2 linked regions of the Homo sapiens genome follow. The protein of the gene in region 1 interacts with the protein of each later gene in a pairwise test. Each region holds a gene or a part of one and is shown in the gene's direction. Other genes may lie near its edges.

Region 1 (8,756 bases):
CAAAATTAGCCGGGCTTGGTTGCGCATGCCTGTAATCTCAGCTACTCGGGAGGCAGAGGCAAGATAATTGCTTGAACCCGGGAGGCGGAGGTTGCGGTGAGCCAAGATCATGCCATTGCACTCCAACCTGGGCAACAATAGCGAAACTCCATCTCAAAAAAAAAAAAGCAAAGGGCATATAGTGAAAAGCTTTCTTCCTACACATGAGTATTCACTTCCTCTTCCTAGAGGCAACCAAGGTTATTTTTGTGTGTGTGTGTGTGTGTGTGTGTGTGTGTGTGTGTTTTGGGACAGTCTCACTCTCTCACCAAGGCTGGAATGCAGTGGTGCGATCTCACTGCAAACTCTGCCTCCCAGTCTCAAGCGATCTTGTGCCTCAGCCTCCCAGTTTTTTTTTCTTTTAAATGGGGTCTCATTCTGTCGCCCAGGGTGGAGTGCAGTGGCATGATCATAGCTCACTGCAGCCTCGACCTCCTGGGTCAGGTTATCCTCCCACCTCAGCCTCCGGCATAGCTGGGGCTACTGGCATGCACCACCACACTCAGTTAATTTTTTTTCTTTTTTGAGACAGAGTCTCACTCTGTCACCTAGACTGGAGTGCAGTGGTGCCATCTCATTTGTTTCACTGCAACCTTTGACTTCTGGGCTCAAGTGATTCTCCCACCTCAGCCTCCCAAGGCGGCTAATTAAAAAAAATTTTTTTTTTTTTTTTTTTAGAGATGGGGTTTCGCCATGTTGCCCAGGCTGATCTCGAACTCCTGGGCACAAACAATCTTTCCACCTCGATCTTTCAAAGAGCTGGGATGAGAGATTTCCACCATGCCTGGCCTCATTTTCTTTTTTAATTTTTTTTTAGACATTATAGCTCTTTTTAATGGCCTCATTTTCTTATGTTTAATTCGAGAATTATTCTTTTCATATACAAAGAATATATTTTCTCCACCTTTAAAAACAAATAGTAGACTGTTTAACATCTCGCTTTATTCAGTTAGTGATGTTTCTTAGATACGGGTCCAAATTAGTACACAAAGCACTTCCTCATTCCTCTCTTACGGCTGCATAGCAGTCCACTGAATGGGTGAGCTATGATCTATTTAACCTATTCTTTATTGATGGACATTTGGTTTTGTATATACATTTGTAATTCTGTATAGATTACAAATCACCATCCAAAGAAATTGTACTGGTTTATTCTCCTACAATGTGTGAGAGTTGGGTAATTACTTAATCTCAATATGTGAGAGTTTAGGCAGTTACCTAATCTCTCTGAGTCTCAGTTTCTCTATCTGCAAAATAAACAAAACAGTGTTGACAGTATCTATTTCTCGGAATTATTGTGGAGATTACTGAGATGATGCCTGTAAAGTATTTGGCATGTAGGAGTTGGTGCTCTCCAAATAAGGATATGATTTTATTTGTATTTGTGAGCTACTGTCCCAGCCAGGTAAATGGATATGATGAGACCTCCTTGCCAGACCGGGTTTCTCTGATTAGAACGAGGAGCAGATGTTGCAGGAAATTAGCAACTGATATCAGAAGAGCCGTGGGCATTCTCTTGCCAGAGGTGCCCTGTCTCCAGGGCGCCTCAGTCCCCCCCCATATGTCTTCTGCTCCCAGGTCCATCCAAGCTGAATGATCGCGCTGACTCAAGAAGAAGCCTTTGGGACCAAGGAAACTTTCCCCTGATCATCAAGAATCTTAAGATAGAAGACTCAGATACTTACATCTGTGAAGTGGAGGACCAGAAGGAGGAGGTGCAATTGCTAGTGTTCGGATGTGAGTGGGGCAGGTGGGGATGAGGATACCTCCTGCCTGGTTCCCTTCCCCACTACTCCCACCCCTGCACCAAATCCAGCCTGAGCTGGTGATACCGCAGCAGCCCCAAGAGGACCAGGCTGTCAAACTGGCCTCCAAATGTCTTAAAACCCTTCTTGATCAGGTGAGGGATGCTGGTGGGCGGAGGAGGGAAGAGGCCTTGGGAAAAGGAAAGAAAAGGGAAGGAGGCAAGGGAAGGAGGGAGAGAGACTGGGGAAGAGAGGATGAGGGGAGAGGAGGAAAGAAGAGAGAGAGGAGGGGAGAGGGAAACCCTATCTTGGCTGGGGGTGCGCAGCTGGGTGCTGGGAGGAAGGAGATGTTGGGACGGCGATAATGGAGAGATGTTGTTGGTTTCCTGTTGTCTGCCCTTCTCCTTGGGGATGGTATGTGTGTGACACAGCTGGCCTTTCCCTCCACAGTGACTGCCAACTCTGACACCCACCTGCTTCAGGGGCAGAGCCTGACCCTGACCTTGGAGAGCCCCCCTGGTAGTAGCCCCTCAGTGCAATGTAGGAGTCCAAGGGGTAAAAACATACAGGGGGGGAAGACCCTCTCCGTGTCTCAGCTGGAGCTCCAGGATAGTGGCACCTGGACATGCACTGTCTTGCAGAACCAGAAGAAGGTGGAGTTCAAAATAGACATCGTGGTGCTAGGTAAGGGAAGCCCCTCTTCGCGCAGTCTCCTCCCTGCCCCAGGGGCTGACAGCCCCTCCCTCTGCTCTGACTGCCCTGTTTCTGGTTCTGGTGCTGGGAGGTCAGGAGTGGAGAAGACTAGGTCCCCTAGAGCTGAGGCCTGTCTTGAAGGACTCACTGGGGCCCTCATCCTCAGGGGGCTGATTGGCAGCCACCCCTCAGTGTGGTGGACATGGAGAAAGGAAAGGCTGGGGAAGGTAAGGATGCTAGAGGCCCGAGTCTCCTTTGGAGGCCCCAAAGGAGGAATGTCAGGGAGCTTACTTTCTTTGTTGCCTCAGCTCCACACCCCTACCAAGTTGGCAAATCCACTTACTCAGGGACACTAACACCAGTAAGCCAACCCTGATGATGTTCTATGTTGTACCTCTGGACCTCTAAGCCAGGCCACTGTGGGGAGACCAAGGTCCTACCCCAGATCCTGTCCCCTGGGTGCTTATGTGACTTAAGGTAGACATAAGGTAGTGTGCCAGTTTAGTGCATGTACGCTGATTGAAATCCTGGTTCTGCCACAACCATGTGACCTTGGGTGAGTTACTAAACCTCTCTGCACCTTGGTTTCAGCCTCTGTGAAATGGGGATGATGTTAACTGCCATAGTGACTACCTCGTATTAAGTTGAGGACTGATATACGTAAGGCACTGAAAATGGTGCCTGGCACAGAGTAAGCCCTAGTTAAGTGTTCGCTGTTATTTTGTGAAGGGTGATGAATACGCCTCTAAGGAGTGGAGGCCAAATGGCTTCTGTGGTCCAGGAATCCTAAGGACAGCAAGGATCCCCTGTGGCTGGGCTGCTCTGTGATGGCTTCCGGGAGGAGGGAGGTGGCCTGCTGTAGGAAAATGCTGGGTGGAAGAAGGGAGAGAAGGCTGGAGAGGTAGGAAGGAACTGAAGTATCTGAAGTGACAAGGTGGGTGTCTGGACTCGTCGGGTCCCCTTCCATCTCCCTGCTGCCTCCACATGCCAACCCCACTCGTGCACCCTCATCTTCCTATCTCCTCACCCAGGGTCTCTCCCTTCCCACCTCCAGCTTTCCAGAAGGCCTCCAGCATAGTCTATAAGAAAGAGGGGGAACAGGTGGAGTTCTCCTTCCCACTCGCCTTTACAGTTGAAAAGCTGACGGGCAGTGGCGAGCTGTGGTGGCAGGCGGAGAGGGCTTCCTCCTCCAAGTCTTGGATCACCTTTGACCTGAAGAACAAGGAAGTGTCTGTAAAACGGGTTACCCAGGACCCTAAGCTCCAGATGGGCAAGAAGCTCCCGCTCCACCTCACCCTGCCCCAGGCCTTGCCTCAGTATGCTGGCTCTGGAAACCTCACCCTGGCCCTTGAAGCGAAAACAGGAAAGTTGCATCAGGAAGTGAACCTGGTGGTGATGAGAGGTGAGGGGCCAGGCCAGGGAGGGGTGGGCAGGGGAAGGAGTTGGAGGGGCCTGGCCCAGGGCTCCCTCTGAGGCAAGCCAGGCCCCAAGAGGGGATGCCTAGGCCCTGGTCACCTGGATGAAGTGAGGGAGGGCCCTCTGGGTTTGGGGCTGGTTTTGAACTGAGACATCCATGAGCCAGCCTGGGGCTGGCTTCACTGAAGATCCCCAAAGCACTTGGGCTAAGAACCAGGGTTCCAGTTCTTCCTATAACCAACCCTCTGTGACCCTGGCTAAGCCCCCTCCCACTGCAGGCCTGCTTCCTGACCTGTCTAATAAGGATAATGAAATCTGCTCTCTGTGTGATAGTAATGATGATAATGTCAAGCTCCAAATTGAGTTTCTGGCTTCCTTATCTCCTTATCATCATAACGACTCTGCAAATAGTAATGGCTAACACTTGATGCTCAGCACGTGTCGGGCCCCATCCAAACACTTTACATGTATGCCTGCCTTTAGTACTATCTGGGTGCAGGTTGTTAAGTCACTTGCCCAGAGACACACAGCTGCTAAGCAGTGGAGCTGGGATTCAAATCCAATACCACTGGACCCCAAACGCTGTTTTTCCTCGTAGGACTGCATGAAAACCTGCTCTAAAAGGCTAAAAGAAGGTCACCCATATAGAGTATCATTTTAATTGTTCTACTGAATCTCAGGCCTTTGATCTCAGCCTCTCGTTCCTCTGCAGCCACTCAGCTCCAGAAAAATTTGACCTGTGAGGTGTGGGGACCCACCTCCCCTAAGCTGATGCTGAGTTTGAAACTGGAGAACAAGGAGGCAAAGGTCTCGAAGCGGGAGAAGGCGGTGTGGGTGCTGAACCCTGAGGCGGGGATGTGGCAGTGTCTGCTGAGTGACTCGGGACAGGTCCTGCTGGAATCCAACATCAAGGGTAAGGACCCAGGTTCCAAGGCCTCTGCCTCCTGGGCTGCGGGACCTTCCTGTGGTTGGCAGAGACCACCCAGAGTCCCGGCCTCCCAATGCCTGAGTTGGGGGGTTATGGGTATGGTGTCCTCTGTGGTCCCAGGGTGCTTTGGAGGCCCCAAAAGGAGGCATAGAAGTGATGAAGTGAGGTGGGTTGTGGTCCTGGGCTCTAGGCTGCCAGTTGTAATTCTACAAGTTCCCACTCCCTCAGGTCTACAGCCTAGGGATGGGGTCCACCTGACCGAGAGCCCCCCTCCCTGGCTCCTGGCTTTTCTCCAAATCCAGACGCACTTACACACACACTCACACACATACACTCTCACACACATGCACACACTCCCATACACTCTCACACACGCACACACATCACTCACACACTCGCACACACTCATACACACACTACACACACATCCACACTCACACCCACACTCTCACCCCATGTACTCACACCCATGCACTCACACACTGTCACACACTCATACACACACATGTACTCACACATGCATGCACACACACACTTACACATTCACGCACATACTCTCACCCACACACTGTCGTACACGTACACTCACACACTTATACACTCACATCCGCACACGCATTATTCACACATGTGCACACACGCGCGCGCACATGCATGCAGTCACGCACACACATTCATACACGCACACAGGCACACATTCACACACATGCACACACGCACACACATTCACACATGGACTCACACGCGCACACGCGCGCACACACACACATTCACACCATTCACACACGCACACACATGCACACACTCACACATGCACACACACATGCACTCACACACACAGCCCAGGAGCCAGACCACAGCTTCTCTCTCTCCAGAGTGCCCTGGATATGGATATGCCCAAACATAAAACCGATTCCCCAGCACTGGCGGCCTTTGAGAGCCCCCAGGCACCCCTCCCCTCTCCCCCAACCCCAGGGTCAAACCAGAGACTGGCCAGGAGGGATTGCAGGGCAGTCCTCAGTCCCCTGGCCCGTGGAGGAGGGCGGTGCATTGAGCACATTTCTCTCCCTTGCAGTTCTGCCCACATGGTCCACCCCGGTGCAGCCAATGGCCCTGATTGTGCTGGGGGGCGTCGCCGGCCTCCTGCTTTTCATTGGGCTAGGCATCTTCTTCTGTGTCAGGTGCCGGCACCGAAGGGTGAGTAACCCCACACCTGGTCCCCACAAGGCCCTCAAACCCCTGAGTCCTCTACCAGGAGATCCTGTATATGGGAACTGATTTTGGCCCAGCTCCCTCTGCCCACTCGTAAGTTCCCTTGCTGCCCTGTCCCAGATCCCACTCAAGGGAGAGACAGGAAGGAGCAGAGAGTTAATTCCAGGATAGATGGCCTGGGCCATGTAACTGCTTCTCCTGTCGCAGCTTCCCCCACTCCCCCCACCAAGGGGCACCTCCCTTCTGGAGGCCTGGGACCCTCGTGACTCCCTTTCTTGTCCCTGGACAGCGCCAAGCAGAGCGGATGTCTCAGATCAAGAGACTCCTCAGTGAGAAGAAGACCTGCCAGTGTCCTCAGTAAGGATCTGGGAGGAGGGGTTGAGAGAGGGGAAAGGGGGAGGGGGAGGGAGTTAGAGAGGAGGGGGAGGAAGGGGAGCAAAGGGGGGCAGGAAGGGAGGATGGAGAGGAGGAAGGAGTTGAGGAGGAAGAGCTGGGAGGGGTGGAGGTGAGGAGATGGGGGCTAAAGGGGTGTGGTGGAGAGGATAGAGGGGTGGGAAAAGATGGCCAGGAGCTAGAAGGAGGCAGAAGTGGGAGGATGGAGCTGAAGGAGCAGCAGGCCAGGAAAGGCCCTGCTGGAAAGCCACTGGAGCTGTGCTGCGCTGGAAAGGCCATTGGAGGTGCTAGAACGCAAAGGGGTTGCAGTGGGGACAGACCTGCTCCCCTTCTTCTTTGTTCCTGCAGCCGGTTTCAGAAGACATGTAGCCCCATTTGAGGCACGAGGCCAGGCAGATCCCACTTGCAGCCTCCCCAGGTGTCTGCCCCGCGTTTCCTGCCTGCGGACCAGATGAATGTAGCAGATCCCCAGCCTCTGGCCTCCTGTTCGCCTCCTCTACAATTTGCCATTGTTTCTCCTGGGTTAGGCCCCGGCTTCACTGGTTGAGTGTTGCTCTCTAGTTTCCAGAGGCTTAATCACACCGTCCTCCACGCCATTTCCTTTTCCTTCAAGCCTAGCCCTTCTCTCATTATTTCTCTCTGACCCTCTCCCCACTGCTCATTTGGATCCCAGGGGAGTGTTCAGGGCCAGCCCTGGCTGGCATGGAGGGTGAGGCTGGGTGTCTGGAAGCATGGAGCATGGGACTGTTCTTTTACAAGACAGGACCCTGGGACCACAGAGGGCAGGAACTTGCACAAAATCACACAGCCAAGCCAGTCAAGGATGGATGCAGATCCAGAGGTTTCTGGCAGCCAGTACCTCCTGCCCCATGCTGCCCGCTTCTCACCCTATGTGGGTGGGACCACAGACTCACATCCTGACCTTGCACAAACAGCCCCTCTGGACACAGCCCCATGTACACGGCCTCAAGGGATGTCTCACATCCTCTGTCTATTTGAGACTTAGAAAAATCCTACAAGGCTGGCAGTGACAGAACTAAGATGATCATCTCCAGTTTATAGACCAGAACCAGAGCTCAGAGAGGCTAGATGATTGATTACCAAGTGCCGGACTAGCAAGTGCTGGAGTCGGGACTAACCCAGGTCCCTTGTCCCAAGTTCCACTGCTGCCTCTTGAATGCAGGGACAAATGCCACACGGCTCTCACCAGTGGCTAGTGGTGGGTACTCAATGTGTACTTTTGGGTTCACAGAAGCACAGCACCCATGGGAAGGGTCCATCTCAGAGAATTTACGAGCAGGGATGAAGGCCTCCCTGTCTAAAATCCCTCCTTCATCCCCCGCTGGTGGCAGAATCTGTTACCAGAGGACAAAGCCTTTGGCTCTTCTAATCAGAGCGCAAGCTGGGAGCACAGGCACTGCAGGAGAGAATGCCCAGTGACCAGTCACTGACCCTGTGCAGAACCTCCTGGAAGCGAGCTTTGCTGGGAGAGGGGGTAGCTAGCCTGAGAGGGAACCCTCTAAGGGACCTCAAAGGTGATTGTGCCAGGCTCTGCGCCTGCCCCACACCCTCCCTTACCCTCCTCCAGACCATTCAGGACACAGGGAAATCAGGGTTACAAATCTTCTTGATCCACTTCTCTCAGGATCCCCTCTCTTCCTACCCTTCCTCACCACTTCCCTCAGTCCCAACTCCTTTTCCCTATTTCCTTCTCCTCCTGTCTTTAAAGCCTGCCTCTTCCAGGAAGACCCCCCTATTGCTGCTGGGGCTCCCCATTTGCTTACTTTGCATTTGTGCCCACTCTCCACCCCTGCTCCCCTGAGCTGAAATAAAAATACAATAAACTTACTATAAAGATGCTCTTCGTGTGTGTGTGTGTGTGTGTGTGTGTGTGTGTGTGTGTGTGAGAGAGAGAGAGAGAGAGAGACCCCTTCTCTGGGGACCAGGAATCTTCTGGTCTTTGGGGTCGGACCCAGAGGAGAGGTTGCTGGGCGTGCCCCAGGAAGGAGATGAAGTTTCCCTGGAGAGGGAAAAATTCTGTGGAGGCTGGCTACCCACCTCCACAACCCACAGGGCTCTGTGTGGGCCTGTGTGTGTGTGAGGCTGAGACTCTGTAATTACATGTGTGTGATATACCGTGGGGGAGAGACTCAGGGTTGTGTGAGCTCTCCTGGTGTATGTGTGTGGCAGAGAAAAAGGACTATGAGAAACTGTAACATGTGTGTGCAAATTGTATCCCCAACATATGTGTTTGTGTTCCAGGAGGAGGAGGCAGAGTGTGTGTGTCTGTGTGCATGCATGCGCCCACATCCTTTTAGCTTGTGCACAAC
Region 2 (8,756 bases), on another chromosome or scaffold:
AAAATGTTTTCAGTGGGGGAAAAATAGTCTTTTCAACTAATGATCCTGGTATCTCTGTAGAAAAAAAATGAACATCAGCTCTCACCTCTCAACAAACACAAAAATTAATTCAAAATGGATTCCAGACCTAAATACTAAAGCTATAATTTAAAAAATTCTAATCAAAGACATAGGAGAAAATGTGTAGCTTTAGCAAAGATTTCCTAGGGCACAAAAGCAAGAAACATAAAACTTTTTTGATGAATTGGAGTGCATAAAAATTGAATATTCCTGCTCTTTGGATGAGGCCACTAAGGAAATAAAAAAGCAATAAATAGTTTGTAAAAAATCAAAATTAATTTTTTCAACAACAGAAGTTTTTCCAGAATATACAGAGAGCTCTTTCAGCTGCAAAATAAGGACTAAAACAGCTCAATTGAAAATGGACAAACATTTTTAATATATACTTCACAAAAGAGGATACACAGGTGGTTAATAAGCACATTAAATGATGCTCAGCATCATTAGTTAACTGAGAAATACAAATTAAAACAACACTGAGATGATAATACTATACATCCATTAAAATGGCTAAACTTAAGAATACGGATACTACTAACTATTGGTCAGGATGTGCAGCCATGACCCAGGAATTTCACTCCAGGTATTTACCAAAGAGGAAACATGACAAAGCAGATGCATTCATAGTAGCCAAAACCTGGAAACAGCCCAAATGTGTATTCACTGTTGAATCCTAGGTAAAATGTGGTGTATCTTTACAATAACTACTGATAATTTTTTAAAATTCTAACTATGACACATGCAACTAAGTGAATGAATCTTCAGAACATTACATTGAGTGCAATATGTTAGGAGTGAAAAAGTACTTACTGTTTGTTTCATTTTATTTACATGCAATGGGTAAAAAGACAAACTTAATCTGTAGTTAACAGAAAGTTGATCAGAAGGTACGTGAGTCTGGTCAAAGGAGCTGAGTTGACTGGGAAGTACCACAGAAGGACATTTTGGGATCACAGAAATTTTCTTTATCTTGATTGTGGTGTTGGTTATGTGGATGTATACATTTGTTAAAAATGCATTAAACTGTATCTCAAATGGGTACATTTTAATGTAAATTTTACTTCAGACATTTTATTTAAACATTTATCAGTTTTTCTCAGTTTCAAATGACTAGTTACTGGAAGCAATGACAAGTGCTACTCAATGACTGCTAAATTTATTGGTGCTATGAATGCCAGATTTTTAGCACAGCAAAATCTACAAATTCCAGGATTTTTAGGTAGTATCTGGGCAAGAATATATATGAATAATGTATATGAAAGGAAGAGGGGGTTCTTAGATATCTTCAAGTCAGTGGAATGCTTAGGTTTCACAGTGCCAATCTGGTGTGACATTTACTTTGTTAAAGGAATTTACTCTAAAACAAATTAAATGAGCCCAGATGCATTTCTTTAAATTTTATTTTGAATTCATCATTTGTCAAAATATGGTTATCAATAATGCATGCTTATAATATGAAGAATGCTTTATCCATGTCTTATTTTTCATATTACATAACATTCTTATTCTTTTAACAGGTCCAGGAGAGCCTCAGATTATTTTTTGTAGAAGTGAAGCTGCACATCAAGGAGTAATTACCTGGAATCCCCCTCAAAGATCATTTCATAATTTTACCCTCTGTTATATAAAAGAGACAGGTAATTTGTGTAGAATTTAATTTCATCAGAAAAGAGAAATCAAGAATTTGAAAGTACTAGAAATTTTTATTGAGCCAGTGAGTCACAAAGCTCTCTGCTTAGAGACTGCATAGGCATAGTATACTCCCTGATCTTAGAATTGCTTCCACTCATTCAAAGCTTTCCAGCCCCAGAAATGACTAAAATCCAGAACATTCTAAATATTTGCTTGTCCTTCTTGGTCTTAGTTTAAATCTTTGTGCTCCAAAGCCTAGAGACAGAAAACCTCTGGATGACAACACTCATTTCTGTCTTGCAAGTATTATGTAAGTGATTTGACTCACTTTGAACTCATCATTCAGCCTCCTAAACAAACCAACAAACAAGCAAACCCCTTGTAAAACTTGTTTCAGCTAATAATACAGACAAAATGTTGGGTGAATAAAAATGAACATGGGCCCATGTAGCCGCTGGGGCCAGTTTGGTGTAATCTTGGGAGCATAGTTCTAAGTTTAGAATTAGACTTCTGCAGAAGTAATGCAATTAAAAAAAAAAAGAAGAAGAAAGAAATGTGCTATGACTAGTTCACTCATGAAATGTTCAAATGAGATGCTATTTAAGAGAACAAATATCTTCTGGACAATTTAAAGTATCTAAATTGTTTGTAGAAAGTAACATCAGTGGAGTATCTCAGAGCAGCCTCAATGCCTGGGATAGCCCTTTCTCTATTCTTTTATCCATAGGTTAAAATAGGAATGAAGTGAACCTCATAGAATTCTGTCACTCTGTGCTGTGGGGAAGGAACCAGACATACACTTCAAAACTTGAAAAGTGAAAGGCTATTTTTCTTCATTATGTTATTTTATATTTTAATGGCCTTTTCTTGCTAGTGTCTTTAGGTCTTAATAATCAGACTACTAAAGCAAAGTTAAATATGCATGTAGTTTTCAAATTAACATTCAAAGGCCAAGGAAAATAAATATATACTATATATTTGAGGTTATGATAAATTTAAAAGTTAAGTCTATGTGGAAGGAAAAATGGAAATTCCAGGAAGATAAAACAGCAGAGGTACTGTCTGCCTCATTGGACACCTCTTTTACAAACACTTTGTGTAGCTTCTATGGGAACACATTGTTCATTTTTTTTTTCTCTTCTCTGAATCTTCTATTCACTATCCCTTTCTGCATTCCTCAATGTCTACACTCTCTCTACTAGAGAGTATTGTCGATGTCAGAGTATATGGTAGACATTTTATGCATTTATGGCTCTTTTATATTTTTACAGTTTTTTTAAACTGTATTTCCACTGTATTTGCATAATTAGGGTAAAAAGGATGTAATGAGTTAGTAGCAACTCATTACAGCAACTAGCATGGGTCCTTCTTATTGGGCAACTAAATAGTGTTACCCAAATTTAACAGCTGTCCACATAGAACACTTAAACGGGATTGAATGGCTGAGAAGGGGAGGCTAGCTATCAGGCTGTGTGTTTTCTTTTCTCCAAAGCTGCCGATTGGTGACTGAATGCAGCTTTGGACCATGCCCTGACACTGCATAAAGGGCTCTTTGGAGCCAGCTCTACTCTAAACAGCGTGCTCCGCTTTTGTTTTCTCCTTCATCTCAAACATATACCTGTCTCCTCTCCCATGTTACCTAAGGCAAAGAGAGTTGATAGGATTATAGTATCGTTAAGGCAACTTAACTTTTCTCACCATTTTAAATAAAATTACTATTAAAAATCCACAGGAAGAAAGTCTATGAAATTTGCAGTTTACTTTTTAATCAGATATTAAATTTCACTTCATTACTTCACAATTTAATTTTTTCAGTGTCTCTAAAAGAGAGGGATTAAAAGAGGAGAAAAAATGCAATTGACATTAATTTAGTTTTATTGGTTTAGCAGGTTTTTTTAATTATGTATTATTTAAAGATTTTATCAACTATTTTAATAACTCAGTGGAGATGTGCATACATATCTTCATAGTTCATATGATGAAACTGAGGTTAACAGAAAATGTGATAGATGTTCAAGTTCAGTAGCTTGATCTGTTTCCTTTCTGCTCTTGGTTTTGTTTGTTTGTTTGTTTGAGAGGGAGTCTCCCTCTGTCGCCCAGGCTGGAGTGCAGTCATGCGATCTCGGCTCACTGCAAGCTCCGCCTCCCAGGTTCACGCCATTCTCCCGCCTCAGCCTCCCTAGTAGCTGGGACTACAGGCGCCCGCCACCACGCCCGGCTAATTTTTTTGTATTTTTAGTAGAGACGGGGTTTCACTGTGTTAGCCAGGATAGTCTGGATCTCCTGATCTCGTGTGATCCGATCCGCCCGCCTCGGCCTCCCAAAGTGTGTTTGTTTATTTTTCCTCACATTTTTAGCTTAAGATATTTTGGAGAACTGCAGTTTTATCTCGTTAACTTAATGATGGCAAGTGACAGTGAAGCTTCTTGGTAATTGGGGAATTGGGGAAGAGATCTTTTGTGCTTTATTGGATTTAAAGGATTATTTTTCAAAAGTTACTGAAAGCAATAGGCACCTTTCAAGACCACCATGATGTTGCTGGAAATTATTTTGTGTAATGCCTTTTATTTTTTTAAGAAAAAAAAAACAGAACAAATTGCTTAATCTCTCTGTGGCTCAGTTTTGTCATCTGTAAAATCAGATGATAGTGAGTACCAACTAATAGTTGCAGTGATGGTTAAATTAATTATTTCATGTATACCCCTTGAAACAGTGCTTGGCACATACAGTGAGTTATTATTTTTAAAAATCGTTATTGATATTATTATTACTGTTGCTGCTATCCAGAAACATGTTGCCACTCTAATCATCCTCTTTCCTGATGTCACTTGGCTACTCAAAAATAGCAGCAGCTGGTGATTTTTTTACTTAACAAGTGCTAAGTCTTCTGCCTGAGTGTGAAAACACACTTAGACACTGTCCTACCTCTCATATGCCTCCCCAGCCAGAGCTGTTGTCCTGATCAGGTTTGTCACTAAACTCAAAAACATTCCTTCTTCCGTTTGTAATATTTTCTTTTCTCCCTTACATGTATTCAGTTCCACTTACCTTTCAATGAACAGCTGAATTCCACTTCCGGCATGAAACTCCCTCATTCTCACAGCTCCCGTTAATTACTGTAGTGTCCAAATTACTATGATAGAATCAACCCAATGACTGATGATCAAATGGATTCTGCATCTAACATTCAAAACAGTAGCTAATACCGATGTTCAAAGTTTGGAGGTTACATATCAGAAAAGGTTTTCTAAAAAAGAATCATTCTGAAACATGCAACTCAAGACTTACAGTATACACTGGGGGCTGTGTTTTCTCAGAAACAAAAGAGATCGTCTTCACAAATGAATCTGAACTTATTAAATATTTTATGTACCAAATTAATGATATAAAACCATAATTTTTCAATATTTAATTTTACCAATGATAATTGAGTTTGTTCAATACACTGGCTGATAATTGTAGGTACTTTTGAGTATCAAGGATGTACTTATTTTTCAATCACTCAATAGTTTGGAGTTCACTTGGAACAATGTGATGTAGAGACCAAATTAATTAGGTACGTGGTAGTACTGACTTTTAACGACTTACTAATTTTTTTTCACATTTTTCCTCAGAAAAAGATTGCCTCAATCTGGATAAAAACCTGATCAAATATGATTTGCAAAATTTAAAACCTTATACGAAATATGTTTTATCATTACATGCCTACATCATTGCAAAAGTGCAACGTAATGGAAGTGCTGCAATGTGTCATTTCACAACTAAAAGTGCTCGTAAGTTATATGTTTTAATGCTTCTTTCCATAAATGGTAAAAAGCAAGGTATGAACTTTTTAGCCTACAATATTTCTATCTTTATTCTAGCAAGCACATTTACCTGGCACATTTGTTAACATCTAGGGCTTATAAACACGTAAAATCTAAAAGTTTAAAAACCGTTATCCTGGATTCTCTCTCTTCTTCAGATATAGTCATAGAATTTTAAGGACAAAGCATAAAAGCATCTTAATTGGCATCAGTTTGTGCAATTTCATGCAGTTAAGTACTTAACCAACTTAGATTAAAACATTCACTGTTTGCTGTTGTCTTTACTATCTGGAAATATTAATTGTAATCAGAAACCTAACAATGTCTCATAAAGCATTAGCCTACTAACCTCTGTTCATCTGATAAAACATTTCATAAAATGTAATATTTTATTAGCATTTTCTTCTCTTCGTTACCCTCAACTACTTACTATTCTATTTTATGTCACATTATCCATTTAAGGTTTCCTTTCAATGGCATTTGGCTCTTGCCACTAGTATAATCTCTCCATAGTTTCCAGGCCCAAAGTTAGATCTGCTTCTGGGGCACATGTTAACCTCCATCGAGGACAGGGAAGAAGAAATGCCGTGTTTTAAGGCAGCATCTATAGCTCCAGAGACCCTAACGGGCACTAGACTTGTGAAGAAATATTGTGCTATTTGGGGCTGAATATAAGACACTTTTAAGGTCATTTAGGTTTTGGTTTGAAAAGTTCTGGTCCTGGAGCTCTATGCTTTTGTTGTTTTCCTGAGTTTCTGTATCACAGAAAAAGAAGACAATTTGTTTCTGTTCCTGAAGAACCCATCTAGGTGTTTACCAGGATAACATTAGCACTCCGGGAAAGAAGGGTCTAGATTGTGTAATAGGACTTGGAGGTTTCCCAATCAACAACATTTTTCCTCTCCTCTCCCCAAACTTCCCCCTCTTCCCCACTCCCTTCCCTTTTTCTCTATTCTCTAATTCTACACAGTCTCCTTCAGGGATTGCAATAACTCTCATGGCTTCATGTACAACCTATATGCTAATACTTACTGAATAAATGAGTGATTTATTCTTCAGGGTTTTGATATTGTTTTTTAATTTATGTACTATCATAACTTCCTTATTTATAACCCCCAAGCTAACACTTAAAATACTTTATACTATATCCAAGTATTGTCAAGTAATTTACATATGCATCTATTAAATTATTAATAACAAATCTTTCTTCATTTTGATAGCTCCAAGCCAGGTCTGGAACATGACTGTCTCCATGACATCAGATAATAGTATGCATGTCAAGTGTAGGCCTCCCAGGGACCGTAATGGCCCCCATGAACGTTACCATTTGGAAGTTGAAGCTGGAAATACTCTGGTTAGAAATGAGTCGCATAAGAATTGCGATTTCCGTGTAAAAGATCTTCAATATTCAACAGACTACACTTTTAAGGTAAAAGTATGCTCTCTACATTACTATAGTACCAACTACATTATAATGATTGATTCATAGTACTTAAATAACTTTAAGACCACTGCTCACATGAGATTGAGAAGCTCTGATGTGTAATGGAATCACACTTAAAGAGTCTCAAATATTTGACTCTAAAATTTTTATTCCTATAGCTCAAGTCAGTGGTTTAAAGCAAATGTTTCATTGGAATATTTTAGAACTTCAATATGACTTAATTATAGCTAAATTATTGCTTCTGTGTTAAGAAGCACAACACTTTATGCACAACAGATTATTACTTTACCAAATCTACCTTTTCTTTACTTTGGCTTTTTATCTTTATTAATGTGGAATTTTTCAATTGCAAAATTTCACAGGTACCTTGAGGTTAGGAAATATTTGAAATAAACACTAGACAATACTAGTGAGCATACAGAATTTAAAACACTCATTATCTCACTGTCTACTGATCGTATTTTGTACATGTAACTTCATAATATACACATTTATATGCACTTAACACGTATTATCAACATTCTGAGTACACAGTTTTCAAAATACAGTTTTAAAACTGTATTTTTAATATATCACTATATCACACACACCTTTCTATGTTAAATATTTAACTACTATGTAGTTTTTAATGCCTGTATAATATTCTATGTATGGCTTTATCACATTCTATTAACTATAACTATGTTGGTCTCTAATATAAACAACATTCCGATAACACACTTATTGGTAAAGCAAAATTTTTGAATGTCTTTAATAATTTATGTTTCATAAATTCCTAAAAATGCATTTATTGGGTCAAAATGTATTTTGAGGCTTTTTGGATATGTAACTTTTTTTTTCTATAAAATTTACCAAATTGCCCTGGTGTATCAGTGTATGAAATGACTGCTTCTTGAGAGGCTCACCAACACTGAATACGCCTTTCTTTTTCTTTATTTGGTGGTTGAAATATGGTATTGATATCTTTCTTTTAATGAAGTTTCTTTACTTATTGTTCTTTGTGTTATTCTTTGCCTCTTTTATCCAGTTTTCTCCGGAGAAATGCCTTGAATATTAATGATATTAAACTCTTTGTCACATGCGTAAAAATGTTATCAGTTTATAATTTGCCTTTTAGTTTTCTTCACAGCACTTTGTCTTACATAATTCCCCTTTTTATTTTTAAACAAATGTATCTGTCACTTTTATTCCTGTTAAATAGAAATTTCCATAGTTAATTTTTTAATATGATGTTGACAAACGGCCTCATATTCTTTTTTTGTTTTGTTTTGTTTTGTTTTGTTTGTTTGTTTTGTTGTTGTTTTTTGTTTTGAGAGGGAGTCCTGCTCTGTCACCCAGGCTGGAGTGTGGTGGCGTGATCTCGGCTCACTGCAACCTCCGCCTCCCGGGTTCAAATGATTCTCCTGCCTCAGCCTCCTGAGTAGCTGGGATTACAGGCACCTGCCACCACACCTGGCAAATTTTTGTATTTTCAGTAGAGATAGGTTTTCACCATGTTGGCCAGGCTGGTCTGGAACTCCTGACCTCAAGTAATCCGCCTGCCTCAGCCTCCCAAATTGTTGGGATTACAGGTGTGAGCCACCGTGCCCGGCCCATATTCTTTATCACTTAAAGAAGTGTTTTCATATTTATAAACTTTTTGATTTTGTTTTTGAACTGGAAATGTCGGTTGGATTTTATCGATTTTTAGGGCATTATGATAGATGATGCCATAGTTGTGATGCCCTGGTGTGATTAGTTTAAATGATGCAAAACCATTGTCACATTCTAAGAGAAAAACCCCTGCTCTGTCATTGTGTGTTATTCTCTCAGAG

Evidence for each region.
Region 2: the proteins of CD4 (region 1) and PTPRC come close enough for resonance energy transfer, tested with the Homo sapiens proteins (one study listed by BioGRID).

Annotation. Positions count from the first base shown.
Region 1 is NC_000012.12:6,812,525-6,821,280, forward strand, and holds the end of CD4 (T-cell surface glycoprotein CD4 isoform 1 precursor), read left to right. Parts: intron 1-1,617; coding exon 1,618-1,776; exon of another isoform or gene 1,777-1,939; intron 1,940-2,234; coding exon 2,235-2,468; intron 2,469-3,206; exon of another isoform or gene 3,207-3,461; coding exon of another isoform or gene 3,462-3,531; coding exon 3,532-3,879; intron 3,880-4,605; coding exon 4,606-4,806; intron 4,807-5,896; coding exon 5,897-6,018; intron 6,019-6,322; coding exon 6,323-6,390; intron 6,391-6,774; coding exon 6,775-6,805; 3' UTR 6,806-8,275; downstream 8,276-8,756. UniProt on the Homo sapiens protein: Integral membrane glycoprotein that plays an essential role in the immune response and serves multiple functions in responses against both external and internal offenses.
Region 2 is NC_000001.11:198,711,376-198,720,131, forward strand, and holds part of PTPRC (receptor-type tyrosine-protein phosphatase C isoform 1 precursor), read left to right. Parts: intron 1-1,577; coding exon 1,578-1,697; intron 1,698-5,306; coding exon 5,307-5,465; intron 5,466-6,718; coding exon 6,719-6,927; intron 6,928-8,756. UniProt on the Homo sapiens protein: Protein tyrosine-protein phosphatase required for T-cell activation through the antigen receptor. Acts as a positive regulator of T-cell coactivation upon binding to DPP4.